Homo sapiens: one gene and its partners. The protein of the gene in region 1 purifies or fractionates together with the protein of each later gene. This does not show direct contact. Each region holds a gene or a part of one and is shown in the gene's direction. Other genes may lie near its edges.

Region 1 (4,593 bases):
GGGCAACACGGTGAAAGCCCGTCTCTACAAAAAGTACAAAAATTAGCCGGGTGTGGTGGCACGCACCTGTAGTCTCAGCTATTTAGGAGGCTGAGGCGGGAGGATCAATTGAGCCTGGGAGGTCAAGGCTGCAGTGAGCCATAATCACGCCACTGCCCTTGAGCCTGAATGACAGAAGGAAACTGAATGACCCTGTCTCAAAAAAAAAAAAAAGAGTTTGATCATTTATTCACTTCAATAGCCATTTGCGCATCAGCCATATGTCAAGCACTGTATTAGACACTACAGAGACAGATATAAGCCAGAATTCTCACCCTTGAACCTATAGTGCACCTAAGGCAATGGAATAATATAACCAGATAAATGTCTTTCCACAAATAATTTTATAAGAGATATTTAATGACCACCTAATCTTTGTTCAGCATAAATTCTGCTAGGTTTTATGGGGGATAGAAGTCAAAATCATCAAGCAGAAAAGGAAGCAGAAATGTAGGAGGTATTATGGTGAGGTAATGGGCTGCAAATATGGGCAGATCTTATTTCCCAGAGGGCCCGATGTACCAGGTAGTGTTTGAAGTACCTGTCTGTTGTAATTACTGCAAAACTCTGTGTCATTTTGTCTATAACAGATCCCAGTGGCAAGGTGCATCCTGAAATCATCAATGAGAATGGAAACCCCAGCTACAAGTATTTTTATGTCAGTGCCGAGCAAGGTATAGTTATGCTGAAGGGAGGGAGGATTATTGCTAGATTGAACTAGGATGAACCACATGCAAGGTCTGTGATAGGAAAGTAAATTCAGCATGTTAGCTGAGCATCTCCTGCATGTCTATAGCTTTTGGCCAGATCCTGTGTAGGATATAGGAGGAAGATGAGACTGAGCCCCTTCCCTTGGAAGAGCTGACTGACCCACAGGCAGCTGTGAAGAACTGAGGCACACAAGTGACTGAGGTAGTCACTTGCCCATAGTTTCATAGTTAAGTAGCAGAGCCAGAATTTGAGTCCAGAACTTAGTTTTTTTCCTACTGAGCTAATACTGTTTTTCCTATGAAAATTCAGTGGAAGAGGAATAGTGTTAGGTGAACAAGTCTAAGAGGTTTTATAGATATTAAACTTAAATAGGCCGAGCACAGTGGCTCATACCTGTAATCTCAGCACTTTGGGAGGCCGAGGCAGGCAGATCACTTGAGGTCAGGAGTTCAAGACCAGCCTGGCCAACATGGCAAAGCCCCATCTCTACTAAAAATACAAAAAATAGCTGAGCGGGCTGGGCGTGGTGGCTCACGCCTGTAATCCCAGCACTTTGGGAGGCCGAGGCGGGAGGATCATGAGGTCAGGAGATTGAGACCATCCTGGCTAACATGGTGAAACCCCGTCTCTACTAAAAATACAAAAAATTAGCTGGCGTGGTGGCAGGTGCCTGTAGTCCCAGCTACTCGGGAGGCTGAGGCAGGAGAATGGCGTGAACCCGAGAGGCAGAGGTTGCAGTGAGCCAAGATCGTGCGCCATTGCACTCTAGCCTGGGTGACAGAGCGAGACTCTGTCTCAAAAAAAAAAAAAAAAAAAAACCAAAAAAACCCCGAAACGTAAACGGACCTAGAAGGATAAAAATTTCATCTCTGGACAGATATGAGGAGGACATTTCAAGCTATGGAAGTGAAGTGGCGGGGGAATGTAGCCCAACATAGAGTTTGTAAGGCTTGCTAGAAGAAATAATGACTGGATTAAGCCTTAGAGAATAAGACCTTGTCAGTAGCAGAATGGGAAAAGCATGTTCCAGGAGAGAGAAGAGCACCAGCACAAACAAGTGAAGGAAGTTTGCAATCGTCAGCCAGTCATGCTTTTTTGTTCTCTAATCTTTGAGCACAGTCATTCTGGAGGCAGGGGTTGGAATTCATGCCATGTATTGTTGCTGCTTTCCTTCCTTTTCCCCTCATCTATGAAAGGGAGTTGTGTGCTAAGTTGCCATGTGTCCCTATTTGCCATGCTGCCAGGCTGTTGATCACTTTATGATTTGAGTCCTTGATACTCTTATTCTCAGACTAGGGACGGGGAGGAGATCTGTAGAAGCTATTACCTTCTTCCCCTGAGTAAGGAGAATGTCATGTTCCTTAACCAAATGCAGATCACTGGAGATTGGTATCAAAGGGAAATTTTCCACGTGGAGAAGGGCAGCTGGGCTTTAGGTCTCCAATTCTTGTATCTTGAGATTCACCTTCCCTTTAGAATTTCATCCAAGTTACCACTGCTGTCTCCACACTGACATAGTCCAGATGTGAACATGAGACCCTTCCCTGAATCCTCCATCTCTCAGCTGACATGAAACTGGAACATTCAAACCCAGCTTTACTAAAGGCATAGGCAAAACAAAACAGAAATAACAAACTGTATTATCTGCCTCTTATGAGCTTATGGTTTGGCTTTGCAAGATTCATAGACTCTGGCTCAACCCAGCTTCTGGCCTGCCATTATATAGGGGTGCTTTGTAGAACCACCATTCAGGAGCCTATACTGAAATAGCTGTCCCCCTTGAGTCTAAATCCATAAGCAGGATGCCCCAAGACAGACAAGAAGTTTCATCTCGAGTCTACTTAAGGCCCTCCTTCCAGGTTTCTCTCTCTCTTTTTTTTTTTTTTTTTTTTTGGCCTGAGAACTTGGCTTCATCCATGTATAGTTGATACTGGAAATGACGACCCCCTTCAGTAGAGACACCCCCGCCCCAGCACACACACCCCTCAGTGTAATCTGTAACCTCCACAGGAAGTAAAATAAGTGCAACATTCATCCAAAAGATACAATGGGGACGGTAGGAAGGTGTTTCCTCTTCCCTGGGGGTGAAGTGAACATCTACAGTCTAGGACAGGGGATCAGCTCTAATCCTAGAGGGTAAGCCAAAATAACTGCTAAGATTTTGGTATGACTTCGTAGTTGATAAAGCACTTTTATTATCCATTCTCCCATTTAACTTTTATAATACTGTGTGAAGTGAGTTACATTATTTCATTTTATAAATGAGGAAACAAATTCAAAGAGATAAATGACTTGCCAGGGCCAAAATCCAGAGCTAGATCTTGAGTCCAGATCTTGTACTCCTCTCATATTTCTTCTGAAACATTTAAAAGTGTACATTGGTTGTCAAATGTCAAACATTACTTACTTCATACTTTTTTCCTCCAATCTTTATTTCACAGTTGTTCAGGGGATGAAGGAAGCTCAGGAAAGGCTGACGGGTGATGCCTTCAGAAAGAAACATCTTGAAGATGAATTGTAACATGAATGTGCCCCTTCTTTCATCAGAGTTAGTGTTCTGGAAGGAAAGCAGCAGGGAAGGGAATATTGAGGAATCATCTAGAACAATTAAGCCGACCAGGAAACCTCATTCCTACCTACACTGGAAGGAGCGCTCTCACTGTGGAAGAGTTCTGCTAACAGAAGCTGGTCTGCATGTTTGTGGATCCAGCGGAGAGTGGCAGACTTTCTTCTCCTTTTCCCTCTCACCTAAATGTCAACTTGTCATTGAATGTAAAGAATGAAACCTTCTGACACAAAACTTGAGCCACTTGGATGTTTACTCCTCGCACTTAAGTATTTGAGTCTTTTCCCATTTCCTCCCACTTTACTCACCTTAGTGGTGAAAGGAGACTAGTAGCATCTTTTCTACAACGTTAAAATTGCAGAAGTAGCTTATCATTAAAAAACAACAACAACAACAATAACAATAAATCCTAAGTGTAAATCAGTTATTCTACCCCCTACCAAGGATATCAGCCTGTTTTTTCCCTTTTTTCTCCTGGGAATAATTGTGGGCTTCTTCCCAAATTTCTACAGCCTCTTTCCTCTTCTCATGCTTGAGCTTCCCTGTTTGCACGCATGCGTGTGCAGGACTGGCTGTGTGCTTGGACTCGGCTCCAGGTGGAAGCATGCTTTCCCTTGTTACTGTTGGAGAAACTCAAACCTTCAAGCCCTAGGTGTAGCCATTTTGTCAAGTCATCAACTGTATTTTTGTACTGGCATTAACAAAAAAAGAGATAAAATATTGTACCATTAAACTTTAATAAAACTTTAAAAGGAAATGTGCTGTGATGGCCTTTTTGTTATTGGAAAAGGAGGGAGGGATGGAGATCACTTCAGGAAGAAAACTAACCTAGAGGACCTAATCTAGGAGTCCTAACCTAGGACTCCTGCTCCTTCACCTCCCACATTCAAATGAGCACAATGGCTCCTCTCTTTTACTTTTTAAATACCTGAATTTCCTCTGTCCACACTATCACTGTTTTAGCACGGGGCAGGCTTTTTCTCTCTTCGACTATTTATTGCTATAGCCCCTTAACTTGCCTATTGGCTCTAATATTCCCTCCTCCTGCAATCGATCCATATCACTCCCCTGTTTAAAACCTTTCCTGGCTGGACACAGTGGCTCACGCCTGTACTCCCAGCACTTTGGGAGGCCAAGGTGGGCGAATCACCTGAGGTAGGGAGTTCGAGACCAGCCTGGCCAACATGGCGAAACCCCGGCTCTACTAAAAATACAAAATTAGGCCGGGCGCGGTGACTCACGCCTGTAATCCCGGCACTTTGGGAGGCCGAGGCGGG
Region 2 (7,032 bases), on another chromosome or scaffold:
GTATGAAATAAAGTTTAGAAGCCATAAAATAAAGAATTGATACATTTGACTCCTAAAAATTGGAGATTTCTGCATGACCTAAAAAAAAAAGCATAAAGGCAAAAGACATGGCAAACTAGGAAAAAGCGTTTCTAGAATATGTGACAAATAATACAGTAATATCAGTAATATATAAACACTTCCTAAAACCCACACGGAAAAGATGACAGTCTTGTAGAAAAACAGTGTTAGGACATGAGCAGATGGTTCATAGGAAAGGAAATACAAATAGATATATAACATGAAAAACATATAAGTTTTCTCATAGTATTTAATTAATACATTTTTAACCCTTAGATTGGCAATTTTTTTTTAATTTGATTAACTCTGAGTTTGTGAGAGTATAAGGGTCAGATGCTCATATCTTATTAATAGGTAATCAAATTGATCAACCTCTTGTAGGCGATTTGCCATATCTGTTAAACTTACACATGCACACAATCGTTGAGCTCGTAGTTGTACATGTAGGAATTTATGTTATAGATATCATTATACATGGATGCAGATAAGTGTGCTTATTTTTTAGCTGCATTGCTCATTAAAGCAAAAGATTCAAAAGAAGTGAAATGTCTAAGAACTGCTTAATTTATGGTACACGTGTAATAGAATAAACACCTTGTAGCCATTAAAAAGAACTAGGCAGCTCTAGAGGTAATGTACTGATAGATGTCCAAAATTAAGTGAAAGTATTGGGGAACATTAAATGTAGGTGACATAAATGTGCCTATGTGTAGAATCAGCTCTCTCTGGAAGCACAGAGCGTACTTGGCCTGGGGAGGGCAGGGGCTCCCGGCGGCTGGGCCAGACGAGGCCGGCTCACTTCTCACTCTCCTGTTGTGTCTTGACATGTGTTCCATGTACATGTGTCACCTACTTTTTAAAAAACCATTAAAAAAAGTGTGTTTTAAGCACATCACTGAAAATAGGCAGATGTAAACGTATTATTTTGCAGATCCAACTGTTTGCCTAAATCAAGTGATGCCTTACCCATATTTGAATGTTTTCCATAAAAAGTGGTTTTTGCATTGATAAGAAAATGAATAGTACTTGCTTCATCAGCGCATATGCCAAAGTTGGAACCATACAGAGAGAATTAGGATGGCTCTTCTGCAAAAATGACATGCAAATTTGTGAAATGTTAAAAAAAATAACAAACATGGGCCGGGCGTGGTGGCCTACACCTGTAATCCCAGCACTTTGGCAGGCCGAGGCAGGTGAATCACCTGAGGTCAGAGGTTGAGACCAGCCTGGCCAACATGGTGAAACCCCATCTGTACTAAAAATACAAAAATTAGCTGGGCGTGGTGGGGTGCGTCTCTAATCCCAGCTACTCAGGAGGCTGAGGCAGGAGAATCGCTTGAACCTGGGAGGCGGAGGTTGAAGTGAGCCGAGATTGCACCACCGCATTCCAGCCTGGGCGACAGAGCGAGACTCCATCTCAAAAAAAGAAAAAAAAATAATGTGTGTATGTGTATATATATGTATACATATATATACATGATGCTTCCAGAGATGTGTGACCACATAAAAATGATTTTGAAAAATATGCACTGCAATGTAATGTCAGGTAGAGTAAAAAGACTACAAAGTGCTTTCAGTATAATTCCATTTTAGTAAATTTATAAATATACATGTAGAAGAAACGGAAAGAAGATTAAAAGTGGTTAGCTCTGAACACCTATAGGTTTTTGTCTATAATCTTCAAATATGTAACATACAAAGAACATTCTACTTTTGTAAGCAGAATACAAAATAATGGCTTTTAAAATTGAAATGAAAAATTCTCTGGCCACCAGTGAACACTCACTGAGCCTCCACACACCATGTGGTGCTTCTGAGTTGGGCTGCCTCTGGATTAAACATGCCACATGCCCTGGTGGTAGGAGCAGCTGTAACAACCCTGAGTTGCCAGGCTGTGCAAGGTAGGGGATGTTAGGGAAGGTTGGCAACTCGGAAGCAAGGCGGTGTGTTAACCATTACAGAAGCATCAGGCTGGAGTTCAGGGACCTGGATTCCACTCCTCACTTGAAGCTCAGTGACCTTCAACAAATGCATTCATCAGTTCCTTCCAGCCATCCGTGATTGTGACTTTCTAAAATAAATTTTCCTCTTTTCTGCATTATAAAAGTATACGTTTACTATGAAAAATTTAGCTAAGCAAAAGTTATGAAATAATTATATCACCCTGAAATAACCTTTGCTATTTTGATGTGAATTTATCTAGTTTTTTCCCTTAAGTACATATGTTTGGGTGTGTAGTTTTATGATTATGAGGTCACATCATAGGCATTTGTTTTACATACATATTGTTTTGGTAACTGTTTTTCTGGCACTTACTCCTAGGTCCTAAATACAAGCATTTACGGAATTTTGTGCCATGTGACTGTGTAGTCTTACTGACATCTTAACAGACTACACCATTGTGATTGATGAGTTTTGTGTCATTTGCTACATAGGATCAAGACTTCAAATCCCAAAAGAACTTCATCATTAACATGACTTGCAGATTTTGCTGGCAGCTTCCTGAAACAGATTACGAGTGTACCAACTCCACCAGCTGCATGACGGTGTCCTGTCCTCGGCAGCGCTACCCTGCCAACTGCACGGTGCGGGACCACGTCCACTGCTTGGGTAGGTCAGAGTTCAAGGACATTTGTCAACAAAATGTTTTTCTCCAAGTTTATTGAAGGGACTTTAACCAGAAATTTGCGAGTCAAGTTACTTAATTAGAAACATTTATCAGCAGCTCTTTAGATGTGCCAAGCATCATCAATAAACTCAACGTACTAAAGTAAAGCATCCAGAAAATTGCAGTTCTTTTTAAATGTAATATTTGATAAAATAAGAAAAACATTTGAAGTATAAAGCATAATACACAGTAATTGACCTTTACCCAAAATAACAATGAAAGCAGCACCAATACCATTGCGGCCGCCTGAGTGCCTGAGTGCTTGCCTTCACCTGGTTGCCTTTCCTCCTCTTCCAAGGTAACCACCCTTTTGAATTTTTTATTTCACTTCCTTTTAAATTTTTTCTGTAGTTTTATTGTCTATATGTAATAAAATAATATTCAATAATGCATGTTTTAGAACCGTGTAAAATGATTTCAGGCTGTGTGCTCTTCTGGGACTTGCTTATTTCCTAAACATTGTGGCTCTAGGATTCATCCACGTGACTTCTCTTCTTTTTTTTACTTCTGTGTAATAATCTATTGTAAGATTGTATCACAGTTTATTCTCCAATATATTTGGTTAAGTGCTGTTTTCCGCTGTTGTGACTGTTCAAATTTCTTTGCCTGTCTCCCAATGGCACAGGTGCAAGAGCTTCTTCAGCATGTACTTTCCAGCGTGTGTCATTCTTTAAATGGCTGTATTGACTGGCATTCCCACCCGCGCTATGTAACTGTTCCTGATGAGCCATATTCTCTCCAAGAGTGGTTATTCTTAAATTTGGTCTTAAAGTTGTCTAGACTTCTTTTATATTTTGGATATTACCTGTGCTGTCCCTGAAACCCTCTCCCAGATTTTGATTTTTTTTTTTTTTGCATTATTGTATATTTTCATGAACAGAACTTTAAAAATATAATTACTGGAAGTTATTAGAGTTAGTCCTTTTTTGTGGTGGTTTTAAGAAATCTTTTTCTACCCCAGGTTAATAAAGACAATTTGCTACATTTTCTTTTGAAAGTTGTAAGTATAACATTTCACATTTAGGTTTAGAATCCACCTGGAATTGGTCCTGGTAGATGGTGTGAGGTAGATTCTACTTTAATTGTCCCCCCACATGGATGGCCAGTTGTCTCAACTCTTCCCTGTTGATCCGTGTGTGACCTCTGTCATAACACTCATACATGAAGTGTTTGTATATTTCTGGTTCTTGACTTTCTCTTCTTTTCCTATTGGGTGATTTTTATGCCTCAAGACTACACTGTCTTATATACTCGTAACTTCCCCGTAGGTCTTGATATGTGGGTGAGCATTTCATGTTCCTCACGTTGTAATCCTAACTTAGCTGATTTAAATATTACATCTATGTAGATAGATGGTAAGCGCTTTGTACTCTTCACTTCAACATGTATTACCGTAAAGAGAGTTGACTTTTCACATTTTAAATTTTGAGCCCATTTGTTACAATTAAGTCTTTCTGAGAGTATTTTTTATACCCTGTATTTTTCTTTCTTTTTTTTTTTTAAGGTAACCGTACTTTTCCCAAAATGCTATATTGCAATTGGACTGGAGGCTATAAGTGGTCTACGGCTCTGGCTCTAAGGTAAGCCTTGTTACTCGTAAGTGTAAAAGGCCGTTTGCATTTCTTTGGGATTGGTGGAATCTTCAGACATTGAGCTCAGTCCCCTTCATTCTTCACTCAGATCCTACCACGTGTGTTAGACTCTAGCAAACAGCTGGAAGAGTTTAGATGATCAGACCAGTACCTCCGTGGAGTTGACTGGCAGGCATGTTAGCTTTTCTCCCAAGATGCCTGCACATTACGTTTACCATTCTGAATGTACCACGAATCAGTAAAATGCTGTGGACTATCCAAAATAGGCAGTTTTATGATGTATATCTTTAATTTTAAGTAACTATTATAAAAAGTAATACATGATGAACACTGAAAACTGGAAAAATGAAAATGACAAAAACATTAAAAATTACCTATAATTTCATCAGCAGCAGATAATTATAGGCTTATATTTCTTACATAGAAATGTGCTGTTTGTTAAACTTCTCAACAGTACTTTAAGAAATTATAGCAGTTCTTCCCACCAAAGGGAAGGGCAGGTAAGACCCTGGTTAACTGATTAGTGAAAAGGTTACGCTGCCTACACTTGAAGTTTTGAGTTCGTGCCTGAGACCCTGAGGCCTGCAGCATTGCAGCCATAGGGCAGGATTTCTCAGCCTCATCACTGCTGACGTTCTGGGCTGAATGAGTTTTTGTCTTGGGGCTGTGCTGTGCATAGCAGGGTGTTGAGCAGCATCACTGGCCTCTACCTACTACTTGTCAGTAGCAAACCCCCCATCCCTTGCAGCTGTGACAGTGTGTCTCCAGATGTTGCCAGGTGTCCCCTAGGGGACAAAATTGCCCCTTGCTGAGAACCACTGCATTAGAATTTGAGCTGAGGAAAGAAGGATCTTGCCTGGCAGGAAAAGTGTAACTGAAAAGTAAAAGAGGGTGCCAGGATAGAAAATGAGACTAACAAAAATAAGATAGGGCGGGCGCGATGGCTCACACCTGTAATCCCAGCGCTTTGGGAGGCCGAGGCTGGCGGATTGCTTGAGGTCAGGAGTTCAAGACCAGCCTGGCCAACATGGTGAAACCCCATCTCTACCAAAAATACAAAAGCCTGCCATCGTGGTTCATGTCTGTGGTTCCAGCTGCGTGGTAGGCTGCAATGGGAAGATCACTTGAGCCCAGGAGGAGGAGGCTGCAGTGAGCTGGCATTGCACCACTGCACTCCAGCCTCAGTGACAGAGTGAGATTCTGTCTCAAAAAAAAAGATTAGTAACCATTGCTGACAATGGTTCAAATTAACAACTGGCTTTTTAAAAAAATAAATAAATGTTTGAAACTTGGAATAATTTTAATTTACAGAAAAGTTGCAAAGATAGTAGAGTTCTTATATACCCCTAACCTGGTTTCCCTACATTGTTAACCTCTTACAGTACTATACTGTAACATACTTTCAACAATTAAAACTTCTCAGCACTCAACATGGTTTTTTTTTTTTTTTGCTTTTTTTTTTTTTTTTTTTTTTTAACGGAGTCTCTCTCTGTCACCCAGGCTGGAGTGCAGTGGCTCAATCTCGGCTTACTGCAAGCTCCACCTCCCAGGTTCACGCCATTCTCCTGCCTCAGCCTCCCGAGCAGCTGGGACTACAGGCGCCCGCCACCACGCCTGGCTAATTTTTTGTATTTTTAATAGAGACAGGGTTTCACCGTGTTAGCCAGGATGGTCTGGATCTCCTGACCTTGTGATCCGCCTGCCTCAGCCTCCCAGAGTGCTGGGATGACAGGCGTGAGCCACCGCGCCCGGCAACATGGTTTCTTTTAAAATCATCACTGTAATGAGATGATGCCCAAGGTTTGCTTCAGGGTACTCTGGAGGGGAAAGAGGAGGGTTTTGATGAAACACAGCTGGCCAAGTGTTGATTATTGGAGCTGAGTCATGGGTACTGTTCTCTTTACTTTTTATTGTTAGGTGTTTAGAAATTTTCCATAATATAGTTTCAGTATTATTAGATCTTAGAATTTAAAAGATCCTTAAATCTTTTAAGGATTTATTCCTAACATTAAGATTTTAGAGATGAATGAAAAAATAGACTGAAAACATGGATGACTTGATCCAGGTCGTCCAGGTGGTGGTGAGCTCCTCCTGACTCCAGCCCTGACCCCGTGTTAGTGCACTTCCTGTTAGACTGGGTCTTTGCTTTATTTTGACTAAAAAGCAATGAGATTGATAACTTTAAAAAAAGAAAACATTGGTTTTTTAGTACAGCTAAAAATTGTATGTTTACTTTTGACATTTAAACTGTCTTCCTGCCCGTAATTATTTGGTGGTGTCAGTTTGTGAAATAGTCACTTGTGTTCCAGTTAAGGGCTACGATCAGGGGAAGCCCTTTCTCAAATCTGACATAATGTGGTGATTAAACCGTGACTGGCCACAGCTGGGGTGGAGGTGGTCTCATGGAATCCTGTCTGTTTGCCATCGCAGCATCACCCTCGGTGGGTTTGGAGCAGACCGTTTCTACCTGGGCCAGTGGCGGGAAGGCCTCGGCAAGCTCTTCAGCTTCGGTGGCCTGGGAATATGGACGCTGATAGACGTCCTGCTCATTGGAGTTGGCTATGTTGGACCAGCAGATGGCTCTTTGTACATTTAGCTGTGGTGTGTGCTTCAGAAAGGAGCAGGGCTTAGAAAAAGCCCTTTTGTCCGTAGGAGTTGATGTGGTGTGAGTGATATATTTCTATGTTTTTAATGTACAGCATCTGTACTTTG
Region 3 (7,032 bases), on another chromosome or scaffold:
GTGTCCCTGAGGCGTCCTAGCCTCCTGGGTGCGTGTTGAGTGCAGCGGCTCCCAAGGACCCAGCCGGTTCTTGCTGGGCACGTTCTGTGCTGGACATGGTGCTAGGCCTCTGTCCACGTCTCCCTCAGCCGTGGCAGAAGACTGGGTCTTACTGCCACGTGCAGAGACAGTTTGCATCTGCCCGTGTCCCTGACCAGCCCTGAGTGGGAGTCAGTGCTTCCGAAAGCTGGGCCAGCCCAGGCCGACCCCATCAGCCTCTGGCGGCCACTGGCGCAGGAGGGCAGGCTCTCTGACCACATGTCAGGAGCCATCCTGTCACGCTGGGGCCCTTCTCCGGCAGGGTAAGGATGCATGTCTGTTGCTGAAGCCTGTCTTCACCCATCAAGTGGTGTTCAGACCTAGTCACTGCCAGAAAGAAGCAATTCAGCTTGTTCACAGGGCGCCCTCCTTTGAAACAGCGGCTCTGTGCCTAGGTGCACCCTCTCCCGTGGTTCCCACTGCTGGTGCTCATGTTTTCCCAGGGGGGCCCTTGCAGGACCTGCACTCCTGAGAAGAGGGGCTAGGGCTCCCCATCTGCCCTGTTGTCCCCAGCCCCTCACGTTGTGGCAGGCAGGGATGTCGAGGCGCATTTCATTTCTATGTGGTTGACCCTTTGTGGGTGTTGAATTGAGTAATCATCTTTGCCGTAGATGCTAGCTTCTATGCATGTCTTTAGTTGAGTGTTTGCGCTAAAGTGTATCTTTCTGGTTTTGTTTTTTAAAATGTCCTTGCTAGTCTCTGGAACTTAAAAGAAAGATGCTTCGAGACAAGCAGAACAAAAAAAATTCAGGCCAGCACCTCCCCATCTTCCCAGCATGGGTGTATGAGAGACCTGCCCTGATCGGGGATTTCCTGATTGGTGCTGGCATCAGCACAGACACCGCTTTGCCGATAGGTACGTGATGCGTTGATTTCCGGGCTCTGCCGATAGGTACGTGATGCGTTGATTTCCGGGCTCTGCCGATAGGTATGTCATGTGTTTATTTCTGGCCTCTGGGCAGGACACTTTGCAGGCCCAGCCCTCCCCCGGGCCTGCCTTTCCTCAGGTTGTGAGGCTCAATGCTGACTGGCTGCCGCCTCCATATTCCCATCCCAGGATGGCAGCAGAGAACGGCTCACCCGGGTCCTTGAGGGTTCTTCTCCTGTCCCTTCTGCCAGAGCTGTGGGGCAGCCTGCAGCAGGCCCCTCCCCAGCCGGCATCCTGGTGCCCTGGTGCAGACCTGCAGGCATCAGAATTGTGTGCAGCACTTATTTCTGAACAGCGATTCATGACTCCCATAGATTCTGTTACAGCAGTATTCTCAGAGGCCTCTTAAGTAGTGTTCGTGTAAACAAGATGCGGGTGAGACCACACAGTCATTTCAAGACGTTGTTATTGGGGACCTGGGATGTGTTCATCTGTCACAATTCATGGGTACATTTTTATTTTTATTTATTTTTAGTTCTTTTGAGATGGAATCTCGCTCTGTCGCCCAGGCTGAAGTGCAGTGGCGTGATCTCGGCACACTGCAACCTCCACCTCCCAGGTTGAAGCGATTCTCCTGCCTCAGCCTCCCAAGTAGCTGGGACTGCAGGCGCCACCACGCCTGGCTAATTTTTATATTTTTAGTAGAGACGGGGTTTTGCCGTGTTGGCCAGACTGGTCTCGAACTCCTGACCTCTGGTGATCTGCCCACCTTGGCCTCACAAAGTGCTGGGATTACAGGCATGAGCCACCACGCCTAGTCAAGTACATTTTTAGATTGAAAAATGAGATTTCACAAACTAAGGACAGAGCATACCTGCTTATCTTGCCCCATCCCCGTTAGTCCAAACTCAAGAGGCAGCATGGAGCGTGGTCTGCTTCCCCACTACTCACGGCTCTGCAATGTGGGCACCAAGGGGCCAACCCTTGCCTTTGCCGGAAACCCTGGAGAACGGTGACGTGAAATCCACCTGTTTTCCTCATCCCCAAGCAAACAGAACCCTGCTGTAAGTTAATGAAAAGTATAGAAAAACCCTGCTGTAAGTTATGAGAAGTATAGAAAACCATGCTGTAAGTTAATGAAAAGTATGGAAAACAGTCTACTTCGGCCAGGCATGGTGGCTCACACCTGTAATCCCAGCACTTAGGGAGGTGAGGTGCGTGGATTCCTTGAGCCCAGGAATTCGAGACCAGCCTGGGCGACAGGACGAGACTAGTCTCTACAAAAAATGTGAAAATTAGCCGAGTGTGGTAGCGTGCACCTGTAGTCCCAGCTACTCAGGAGGCTGAGGTGGGAGGATCACTTGAGCCTGAGAGGTCGAGGCTGCAGTGAGCTGTGATCGTGCCACTGCACTCCAGCCTGGGCAACAGAGCGAGACCCTGTTTCAAAAAAAAAAAAACAAAGCAGTCTGCTTTGTGCAGTGTTTTCAGTAATAATCCAACTGTGAAAACCCAACTGTGAAGACTTAGGGAGAGAGAGCTGCTCCCTTAGCGGGTACTCAGCAGGCAGCCGGGGAGTGGTGGGCACCTGAGAGCTCCTGATGGTACCCAGGCAGACTTCGGAGAAGGAAGCGCGGGGCCCTGCTGCCTGGGATCCCAGCAGTGGAGCCGGCTTTTTGGAGCAGGAGGCACTGAGGGGGTGTTCAGGCTTTCCCCCCATGTTTCCCCATTCAGGGAAGGGGTTGTACAAAAGAGGAACGCACTGTCCAGTAACGCTGCGGCGCCGTGGGCAGCTCTGAGCGTGGCGGTGATTGGCAGCAAGTGTGTGAGACTTGGCTGTGAACCCTGCAGCCAGCTCTCAGGTCAGGGTGCAGGTGCCCTCAGCACACTCAGCATCCCAGGAAAGGGGCGGCCTCGCCCCACCTCCCTCCCACGGCCACATACCACAGGTCCCAGGGGTGCCTCCGGTATTGAGGCTGCCTTGCCTCCCTTTGTCCGCACTGTCCCTGTCCCCTTGTGCCACCTGTGCAGACTTGAGAATGGAGCTCACTGTGGTGTTCATGCCGGGGCCTGTCTAGCTCCTCACCCCACGATTTGACCAGTGCCACACCACGGGACCTTGTGTGACCTCGGGCCTGCGTCCTCTGGAAAACAGCTGTGGAGTGGTGTGATGAGGACAGGTGCCTTGGAAAGCATCAGGACCTTGTGAGCACGAGGCAGCTGCCAGCACTCCACGTTCCCGCCATGCTCTCCTCACCGTGTGGGCATCCACCTGGCCAGCGCCGCCTCCGCAGTGCCCCTCCCTCTGGTCGCTCCCGCGCAGCATGCGAAGGTGTTATCTGCCCGCGTCCTGCCTTTTCCCCACACCGGCACGGAGGAGCCACGTGTTCGGTGGTCGTTCGGACGTGGTGATTTGCAGGTGACATCGCAGGTGTTGAGATGACACTGAGGATGTTGAATATTGGGGAGGTGAAGCAACTGACTCTTTTTTTGCTTGAGACAGGGTCTCACTTCGTTGCCTAGGCTGGAGTGCAGTGGCACAATCTCAGCTCACTGCAGCCTCGACCTCCCAAGCTCAGGTGATTCTCCCACCTCAGCCTCCCGAGTAGCTGGGACTGCAGGTGTGCACCATCACACGCAGCTAATTTCTGTATTTTCAGTAGAGACGGGGATTCGCCGTGTTGCCCAGGCTGGTCTTGAACTCCTGGAGTCAAGCGATCTGTCCACCTTGGCCTCCTAAAGTGATGGGATTACAGGTGTGAGCCACCATACCCGGCCTAAAGCAACCCTTGAGGTCCCTCCACAGCCAGGCGGCTGGATCCACACTAACCCCCACCCCACGGCACCTCCACCCCACCGTGAGGCTTCTCCCCACAAGGGCATTGGCCGAGGCTTCGTGGCTGTGGATGAATGAGGCCAACATGGTGGAAAGTAAGTGATGCAGAGTCAGAGGCAGTTCCTGGAAGATGCACTCGCTGTTCCCAAAACGCCAAGCCACACCCACTCCTTTAGGGATGGTAGACATTGGGGTCTCGGTTTTATTGGTCATCCTGAGAAGGCCACTGGAGTAATAGAAAGAAATGGAATTTGAAGTTGAAAAGTGTAGATCTGCCAGCCTGGGCAACACGGCAAGACCCCACCTTTACAAAAAATTTAAAAATTAGCCAGGAATGGTGGCACGTGCCAGTGGTCCCAGCTCCGAGGGAGACTAAGGATACAGGATCGCTTGAGCCTGGGTGCTCAAGGCTGCAGTGAGCTGAGATTGCACCACTGCCCTCCAGACTGGGTGACAGAGTGAGATTTGTCTCAAAAATAAAAAAAGGAAAAAAAAAAAACAAGGACAGTGTGGATCTGCATCAGGATTGAGGCTTTCGCTGAAGGGCTTGCGTTGGTGACGGATTGTAGTCTTGAGGCCTGCAGTCACAGGACACTTCCCAGCAGATGTGTGAGGCTGACAGAGTGATTTTGTAAACCGAAAGCCTGTTGTACGGAGCCTTCCTGAGCTGCCAGGGCCTGGTTTGGGTATGGTCTGGCTGGCACGGGGCCCTGTCAGGCCCTCGTGGGGACAGTTTCAACATCCTGCTTTCGTCTGGTGCTCCTCCCGGCCCCCCAGGCATGGCCCGCCTGAGGCTGTGGACTGAGAACTTGGTCCTGGGACCTGAGGGGTTTGGTGGGTGGCGGCCCGTGGCCGTCCTCGTGAGGAAGCTTAGCTGTGTGTCCTGCAGCCGTCTCATCCTCTCTGGATAGAAATTATCAAGAGTTTCTTAACGTTTAAGTGATAGCTTTTTAAAGACAAGGTTTTTTGTCCCAGAGTAACTCAGACTTACCAAGTTGTACTTACCAATGTTGAAAGTGCAGCTTCTGCTGGAGTCGCCTTTTCAACTCCTAACTTCACCTTTTCAAATGTCAGCCATGTATCTGAGCATTGCGGAGCCGAGTGTGGTGAGATCTTGACACCAGCCACCACGCCTCCCAGGCCGGCCCCGTCCTGCGGCGGTTGGAACTCAGCCTGTGGCTCCCCAGTGGGGTCAGTCAAAGCCAAGTGCAGTGGCTGACCTTTTATACCCATAAACAAAGATGAGCAAGAGTGAGACTGACCCGCAGATGAGGGCACGTGGCTGTGGGGGCATGGGAGTGGGGGCTGCAGAGCCACAGCGCTGTCTGTGCCCGCAGGCACGTTGCCCCTGGCCTCGCAGGAGTCGGCCGTGGTGGAGGACCTGCTGTACGTGCTGGTGGGCGTGGACGGGAGGTACGTCAGTGCTCAGCCCCTGGCTGGGAGGCAGAGCCGGACCTTCCTCGTGGACCCCAACCTGGACCTGTCCATCAGGGAGCTGGTGCACAGGATCCTCCCAGTGGCCGCCAGCTACTCCGCTGTGACCAGGTGGGCACCGGGCGCGGTCCCTGGGAGCCTGCGCTGTTGTGGGGGAGGGGTTAGGTCCCATCCTGATGACCATGGGGACGTCTGCATCGCTTCTAAAGAGAGCGCCCGCCTTGGTGACAACTCCGTGCCCAACTCAGTTTTGGAGGGTCTGTGAGTCACCATCCAGGGTCCTGACTCATCTCCTCCTGGGGCAAAAGTTCCCCTCTGGGATGTGGGGTTCAAGTGAGTCATTTGCTTCCTGTTTGGGATGAGACTCAGAATATCGGACATTGTATGTGCCTGCAGCTTGCCTTTTTGAGGAAGTCTGACAGCTTTTCTTCCAGGTTCATTGAAGAGAAGTCTTCCTTCGAGTACGGGCAGGTGAACCACGCCCTGGCGGCCGCCATGCGCACCCTGGTGAAGGAGCACCTGATTCTGGTGTCACAGCTGGAGCAGCTGCACAGGCAGGGCCTCCTTTCGCTGCAGAAGCTCTGGTTCTACATCCAGCCAGCCATGCGCACCATGGACATCCTGGCCTCCCTCGGTGCGTGCCCGCCCGGGGGGCATGGGGCAGTGGTGGGTGGCAGGTGTTGAACATGGCACCCAGTGTGAGGAGAGACTCTGCAGGGGCCGTGGAGCAGCTGCCCAGGGCAGGGGCGTGTGGCCAAAGCTCATGTTGCTCCATGTGCTATTAACTTGCAAGAGGAAAGCCCTGGAAGCTCTTACTGGTCAGCTGAAATCAGCAACTACAACCTTACAGTTAATACGTATCCCAAAGAAGCAGCACCGTCCCAGGAAGAAGGTTGGAGAAGCATGAGGGGCCCCAGCAGTGTTGTTGGCAGAGGCTGGGCGTGCGCTTCCTTCTCAGCAGTGAGCCCTCCTTTCTCCCCACAGCCACCTCGGTGGACAAAGGCGAATGTCTTGGGGGGTCCACGCTGAGCCTGCTCCACGACAGGAGCTTCAGCTACACAGGGGACAGCCAGGCGCAGGAGCTATGCCTGTACCTAACCAAGGCGGCCAGTGCTCCCTACTTCGAGGTTCTGGAGAAGTGGATCTACAGGGGCATCATCCACGACCCATACAGGTAGGGCTCCCCGGGACACGGGGACACGGAGGGACACGGGGACACGGAGGGACATGGGGGACACGGAGTGTGCATGCTGCCCTCTCCCGTACAGGTAGGGCTCCCCGGGACACGGGGACACGGGGGACACGGAGGGACACGGGGGACACGGAGTGTGCATGCTGCCCTCTCCCGTACAGGTAGGGCTCCCCGGGACACGGGGACATGGGGGACACGGAGGGACACGGGGGACACGGAGTGTGCATGCTGCCCTCTCCCGTACAGGTAGGGCTCCCCGGGACACGGGGACATGGGGGACACGGAGGGACACGGGGGACACGGAGTGTGCATGCTGCCCTCTCCCGTACAGGTAGGGCTCCCCGGGACACGGGGACATGGGGGACATGGGGGACACGGAGGGACACGGAGGGACACGGAGGGACACGGGGGACACGGAGGGACATGGGGGACACGGAGGGACACGGAGGGACACAGAGGGACATGGGGGACACGGAGGGTGCGTGCTGCCCTCTCCCGTACAGGTAGGGCTCCCCGGGACACGGGGACACGGAGGGACACGGAGGGACATGGGGGACACGGAGGGACATGGGGGACACGGACGGTGCATGCTGCCCTCTCCCGTACAGGTAGGGCTCCCCGGGACAC

The links. Proteins that work in one complex are often made in the same cells at the same time.
Region 2: the proteins of TXNDC12 (region 1) and TM2D3 purify together in Homo sapiens (co-immunoprecipitation; 3 studies listed by BioGRID and IntAct, with this or other methods). This does not show direct contact.
Region 3: the proteins of TXNDC12 (region 1) and TUBGCP2 purify together in Homo sapiens (affinity purification with mass spectrometry; 2 studies listed by BioGRID and IntAct, with this or other methods). This does not show direct contact.

Annotation. Positions count from the first base shown.
Region 1 is NC_000001.11:52,019,611-52,024,203, reverse strand, and holds the end of TXNDC12 (thioredoxin domain-containing protein 12 precursor), read left to right. Parts: intron 1-629; coding exon 630-713; intron 714-3,191; coding exon 3,192-3,271; 3' UTR 3,272-4,073; downstream 4,074-4,593. UniProt on the Homo sapiens protein: Protein-disulfide reductase of the endoplasmic reticulum that promotes disulfide bond formation in client proteins through its thiol-disulfide oxidase activity.
Region 2 is NC_000015.10:101,642,363-101,649,394, reverse strand, and holds part of TM2D3 (TM2 domain-containing protein 3 isoform a precursor), read left to right. Parts: intron 1-2,495; coding exon 2,496-2,670; intron 2,671-4,232; coding exon 4,233-4,308; intron 4,309-6,750; coding exon 6,751-6,916; 3' UTR 6,917-7,032. UniProt on the Homo sapiens protein: Probable positive regulator of Notch signaling.
Region 3 is NC_000010.11:133,291,854-133,298,885, reverse strand, and holds part of TUBGCP2 (gamma-tubulin complex component 2), read left to right. Parts: intron 1-774; coding exon 775-934; intron 935-1,481; coding exon of another isoform or gene 1,482-1,565; intron 1,566-5,116; coding exon 5,117-5,324; intron 5,325-5,647; coding exon 5,648-5,847; intron 5,848-6,197; coding exon 6,198-6,387; intron 6,388-6,838; exon of another isoform or gene 6,839-7,032. UniProt on the Homo sapiens protein: Component of the gamma-tubulin ring complex (gTuRC) which mediates microtubule nucleation.